Linked DNA regions of Homo sapiens. The protein of the gene in region 1 interacts with the protein of each later gene in a pairwise test. Each region holds a gene or a part of one and is shown on either strand. Other genes may lie near its edges.

Region 1 (2,493 bases):
TACTAAAAATACAAAAAAAATTAGCTGGGCGTGGTGGCGCGCGCTTGTAATCCCAGCTACTCGCTACTTGGGAGGCTGAGGCAGGAGAATCGCTTGAACCCAGGAGGGGGAGGTTGCAGTGAGCCGAGATTGTGCGCTTTTGCATTCCAGCCTGGGCGACAAGAGTGAGACTGTTTCAAAAAAAAAAAAAAAAAAAAAAAAACCTCAAAGACGGGAAAAGATATACAGCTACTGCTTTCTATTCTGTTTAGGAGAAGCTATATTCTAATTGCTTGATGAAAGATAGTGACAGTCTGATATTGAGCAATTGCCTTTAGTTAATAATGGGTTTATAAAACCAAAGATGCTCACTAAGTTCGGAAAAATTTTAAAGGGATCACTTAAATTGTTGTTAGTGTGTGCCTGTTGAAAATTCAGCTGACCTGTAATTTTCTGGCCTAGTGTCTGCACTGCTTGGGGAGGAAGATGAAGAGGCACTGCATTATTTGACCAGAGTTGAAGTGACAGAATTTGAAGATATTAAATCAGGTTACAGAATAGATTTTGTAAGTATCTCTAACTTAATCTTGTTTGCCACTGTGGAAATTAATGTGAGCTTTGGTTGGAAGACCTGTTCATATTTCTAATCTTTCAATTATTTATTACAGTATTTTGATGAAAATCCTTACTTTGAAAATAAAGTTCTCTCCAAAGAATTTCATCTGAATGAGAGTGGTGATCCATCTTCGAAGTCCACCGAAATCAAATGGAAATCTGGAAAGGTATGTTTTGAGGAATTATTTGACAAAAATAGCATTTTGCCTATTTCAGTTTAGTTTTAACCACTTACAAGTGCTTGATACTTTGGTCATGTGGCTAAATACAAAACCTTAAAATATAAAACGTTCCAGTGTGCTGAAGCCAAGTATTACAGTAGTTTAGGGTTCTCATTAGATACTACAGATGTAGGCAGGAAGATCTCTTGAGCCTAGGAGTTTACCCTGGGCAACATAGACCCTTACCTTCCAAAAAACAAAAAAAAAGAGAAAAATCTAGCCCAAGTTTAAGAATTGAGAACTGGACTAAATTTTTTGTTGCTGTTGTTTTCTGCAGTGGTGACTGAGCTCTTCAAATGGCTTGCCATTTCTCAAAATCATTTACATCCGTATTTAGGTAGTAAGACATAGTTTAGATATTTATACTGTGTTGTGCTAGTGGCTGTTAACAGTGGAACTAATTTTATGGAAAACCAAATGTAGTTGATACTACCTCTACCTGCTGCACAGTTTTATAATTGCTCTTAGGTAATAATGGTAGCGTAGATAGTATACTGATATTTGTTTTGCTTAGCTTTTGGGGAAAATCTTATTTTTTAAATTATAGGGAGTTTGGGTGTTATGGAGAGATTGTATCAAAAGCTCTTCCGGTATTCATTTAGGATTTGACGAAACGTTCGAGTCAAACGCAGAATAAAGCCAGCAGGAAGAGGCAGCATGAGGAACCAGAGAGCTTCTTTACCTGGTTTACTGACCATTCTGATGCAGGTGCTGATGAGTTAGGAGAGGTCATCAAAGATGATATTTGGCCAAACCCATTACAGTACTACTTGGTGAGTTCTAATACTCATTTATTCAAGGTTGGACTTGTCTCGGTTGTTTAAAAATGAGTCCTTATATTGTGCTTTTTTTTTTTTAAGGTTCCCGATATGGATGATGAAGAAGGAGAAGGAGAAGAAGATGATGATGATGATGAAGAGGAGGAAGGATTAGAAGATATTGACGAAGAAGGGGATGAGGATGAAGGTGAAGAAGATGAAGATGATGATGAAGGGGAGGAAGGAGAGGTAAAAGAAAATTTGGCTAAACCCACAAAGATAACTTTTAAAGAATTCATGTTATTTTGGGGTGTATATATATATATATAGTGTGGTAGAACTGACCAGAACTGATTGTGGAAAAAAAGTAAGCCATTTTGTTGTTCAAGAATTAAGGAAATGTTTGATAAGCACATGGTACTAATGTTTAACTAGGTTTTTTTTGGTTTTTTTTTGGGTTTTTTTGGTTAGACTTATCACCACCCAAGCTTGTTTTTCCCTAGCCAGTACTTAGGCAATATAGGCAGTGTAGCTGGTCAAATTCTGACATCTCTGAAATAACAAAGTTTCATGTATTTTCGACAAACTGCACAATTTCTGAATAGTCAAATTAGGATAGGTTGGTTTTATTTCGGATTATTTGATCCGAAATATACCTGATTTGGTTAGAACTGAAGTTACTAATTAATCTGAAGCAACATCATCACGGGTGTTTCCTTCGATGCAGCTGACTTACAGGTTTAGAAACTGGAGTGCCCCCAGGGGCACTCGTGGGGTCCATTGTGGTCCATATGAAAGCAAGTCTCAGCATTAATCCTGAAGATTAACTGCCCACTTTTTCTTTCAGGAGGATGAAGGAGAAGATGACTAAATAGAACACTGATGGATTCCAACCTTCCTTTTTTTAAATTTTCTCCAGT
Region 2 (3,507 bases), on another chromosome or scaffold:
CCACCCCCACTCTCCTGACCCGGGAGCCTGTGCTCGAGGCACGCCTACGAATGTCCCCGGGAGGGCGGGTGGAGGACAGACCTGCTTCCTCAGAGCCCCCGCCTCCTGCACAGCAGAAACTCTCCAGCTCTGCACGGAAGCCCCACCCCGAGGCCCCTCCTCCCCTGCTCCACCCCTGGCTGCACCTCGAAGCTCTACTAAGGGGAGGCCCTGGGAGAGCTTCCCCACCTGCCTGTTAGCACCGACTGTGGGATCCACTGCGTGTTTGGGCCACAGATTCATCCAGGGTTGAGTTTGGTTTGCTGGGTGGTTGTCTGGGCCCAGCAGAGCCGCTGGTAAGCAGCAGCCTCTAGTGACCATCTGAGACAGAGCAGAGGTGGGGCGGGGCGGTGTTGTGTGCCACTCACCTGGGTACAGACGAGATGAAGAGTAGGGGGGAGGCATTTGGGGCTGGAGTGCCCCAGGTACTGGGTAAGCAGGACACGTTCCCCTTTCTGGCACGAAGCCTCTGCCCCCAAACGAAAAAGCAACAGACCACAGCCCGGCGGGCCCTGGAAGATAAACACAGGGTCAGCCCTCCCCACAGTCCCAGGCCGGTGACGCTGTCCTCGCCCAGGCCGCAGCCAGCCTGGGACTCACCGCTCTGCGGCCGCTCCCGCAGTCGGGGTGGGTCCTCTGCCGCCAGCCCGTACCTGAGTGTCCAGCATCTTCACTCCGGTGCGGTCACCCACGGTCAGCACCCGAGGGTGCGCAGTGAAGTCTGCCCAACGCCACGAAGAGGAGTCCCGGAACACGAGGGTCTCAGGGTCCCTGTAGATTTGCCGCAGCCTTGGGGAGACAGGCAAGCCGTGGGCAGGGGGACAGGCTGATGGGGAAGGGGCTCAAGGGTCGCGACATGCTCAACAGGGCGGAGTTCAGTTCGTTAGGGTGGGGGGTTTCACAGGAAGCGGCGATACCCATCCTCAGGGCTCCACAGGCAGACGGCTCCCGAGCGGCTGCAGATGGCCAGCTCCCCGGGCAGGTGAGGGCTACAGGGCAGGAATGCATTCACATCGGGCTGCTCAGCCCTGCCTCCAGCCCCTCCTCACCGACCAACCTGACCCCCCTCACCTGAGGCTGATCCCCGTGGCCCCTTTCTCCACCTGCATTGCCTGCAGAAGGGTTGGCTGCCACTGTTTACCAAACTTCCACACGGCACAGTGGTAGTCAGAGCGGACGGCCAGCAGAGCTGAGGAGGGATGGAAAGGGCCAGGGGTCAGGTAGCAGGTCAGCCAGTGAGGGAGGAAAGTGTATATAAGGGCCTTACTTTCTCCCTGGACGGTGCATGTCACCACTTGCCGGACAGGTCCCTGGAGCTGGATGCGTCCAGGTTTCCCAAGGAATTGGGGATTGTCACCTGGGGTCAGAACGACCTCTTGGAAATCTGGGCCTCTCACTAAGGATCAGTGCACGAGCTATGATCACTGCAAGCCCCCCAAATTCCTGCCCTTCTCTGGACCATGCCAAGAGCACCTCCTCTACCAGAGGCGAGCCCGCTGGAATCTCCTGTCTCGCAAGAAAGGATACGCAGCCTGTCCTGGGCGCCTCCAGCAGGGTAGACCAGCTGCCCGAACTGGGGTGTCCTTCCAGGAACCCAGGCCAGCGCGCCCCCAGTGCAGGCCTCATCCAGAAGCAGCTGCTCCCACCGCAGCACCAGCTCCTCGTGCAGCAGCTCTGCCAAGTGGCTCGCCACCGACGTGCCCAGGATGGGGCCCCCGAGGATAGAGAAGCGGCGCTGTCGGTTGCTGAGGTAAGCCCAGGGACACCTGGGGACCAGAGAACAGCAGGAGGATCACTCGGTGGCACTCAGGGGAGGACAGGTCCCATCCCAAGGAGGCCAAGTGCAGTGGACACATTTCTTATTTACCTAGAATTTCTTCCTTTGGGAGACCACCCCATCCTGTTCCCATGCCCCGGAAGCAATCATGTGACCCAGACCTGGCCACCAACAATATTCCATTGCCCTTGCCACAGTGACTGGTTCACAGATGGGTGTGAGACCCAAGCCAAGCCAACCAAAGTCCTTTCTGGGACTTCTGGTGCCGCAGGAAGGACACTGGCTCTTTCCTTAGATCATAAGCCATCTTGCTGCTACCTAGAGACAGCCTGTCTAGGGAACTGTGCAGGGAGAGGCAAGTGGACGAGACAGGAAAGAGAGACACAGCTCTATGAACATTATTTGAACACCTGGATGCAGCTGTGCCTGAACTCCACAAATGTAAATCTGCTTTCCCCTGAGATGATTTGGAGTTGGAAGTCTGGTATAAGAAAGTACAGCTCAGACTGCATGGAGCAGGGGGGAAGTGGGTATGACGGAAAGCTGTACGTGCGTCCTAGCACCTCCTACATCCCCACCACCAGCTATGCCTATCCATCTCCTCCTTTCTCATCAGCCACTTGCCCCCAGGGCTGGTGTCCACCGAGGTCCTGGAGCAGCTTCTTCACACTGACCACTGTCTTCTTCTTAGTGCGGCTCTGCATGGAAAGGCCTTGTCAGGCTCACACACCCTCGAGTTCACCCCTGAAGGACAGCAGGGAGTCCCCACCCCTGGAGTCACGGGCCACTCACCCCCGCTCCCTCCAGCTTGAAATTCTCCAGCATCAGCTTCCCCAGGGGCGCAAAGGCTACGTCTCCATGATCCAAGAGGAACCGGCTGATCTGGGGAGAAGAGGAGGCCAGGTCACTAAGCACAGTCTCCAGGCTACGCAGCACTGTCCCCCGTGGGCCCACTCACCTGCTCAGTCACATCCAGCACGACTCGGGGCCGCTTCCGATACCGGCACCCTCCGCGGAAAAGCAGGTCCCGGGCAGTCAGGCCAGGGTCCCAGGGATCTGAGAAGGAGGTTACGGAAAGGGCTGGGGAGGGCACAGGAGTGCGGCCAGATGCCCTGGGCGACTGGAGGTATCCAAGGGTCCTGAGCAGGCACAGGCTTAGCAGGGAGAGGAAGGTCTCAGGAGCGGGAGCAGTGGGAAGAATAGGTGGAGCAGTGTGGAGTGAGCCCGGGGGAATGAGACCCTTACCGATGAGGGGAGGCAGCATGGGGAGAGGCCCAGGGGTTGCCGGCTCCCACAGCAGGTCCTTGGTCACATGCAGTGCCCCATTCTGAAGGGAGGACAATCGCAAGGACAGTATCATGATGAATGCCCTCCCTGGGCCAGGCTGTGCACAGGCATTCATCTCTTATCAACTCATCCAATCCTCACAACAATCCTGCGAAGCTGGGATGACTGGCATTGTCATTTTACTGCTGAAGAAACTGAGGCACACTGCCATTTGCCCCAGAAGACAGAGCCGGTAAAGAGAAGAGCTGGGATGTGAACCCAGGCAGCCTGACCCCAGAGCTCCTGTTTCCGACCTCCACCTGTGCTGGCTCTCAAAGAAGGAAGCCCCTCATGCCACCAGTGGCTGGTCCACATCTCACGTAACCTCACTTCCATTCAGGAGACCTTGCAGTCACTCTGGGAGC

What was found.
Region 2: the proteins of SET (region 1) and TAF1C interact in binary tests that used the Homo sapiens proteins (3 or more experiments, as listed by UniProt).

The regions. Positions count from the first base shown.
Region 1 is NC_000009.12:128,692,221-128,694,713, forward strand, and holds part of SET (protein SET), read left to right. Parts: intron 1-441; coding exon 442-545; intron 546-647; coding exon 648-761; intron 762-1,417; coding exon 1,418-1,588; intron 1,589-1,675; coding exon 1,676-1,822; intron 1,823-2,420; coding exon 2,421-2,444; 3' UTR 2,445-2,493. UniProt on the Homo sapiens protein: Multitasking protein, involved in apoptosis, transcription, nucleosome assembly and histone chaperoning. Isoform 2 anti-apoptotic activity is mediated by inhibition of the GZMA-activated DNase, NME1.
Region 2 is NC_000016.10:84,180,636-84,184,142, forward strand, and holds part of TAF1C (TATA box-binding protein-associated factor RNA polymerase I subunit C), read right to left. Parts: intron 3,144-3,507; coding exon 3,062-3,143; intron 2,873-3,061; coding exon 2,775-2,872; intron 2,699-2,774; coding exon 2,609-2,698; intron 2,515-2,608; coding exon 2,441-2,514; intron 1,806-2,440; coding exon 1,567-1,805; intron 1,424-1,566; coding exon 1,307-1,423; coding exon of another isoform or gene 1,229-1,306; coding exon 1,111-1,228; intron 1,029-1,110; coding exon 957-1,028; exon of another isoform or gene 829-956; coding exon 693-828; intron 552-692; coding exon 408-551; intron 361-407; exon of another isoform or gene 233-360; intron 1-232. UniProt on the Homo sapiens protein: Component of the transcription factor SL1/TIF-IB complex, which is involved in the assembly of the PIC (pre-initiation complex) during RNA polymerase I-dependent transcription.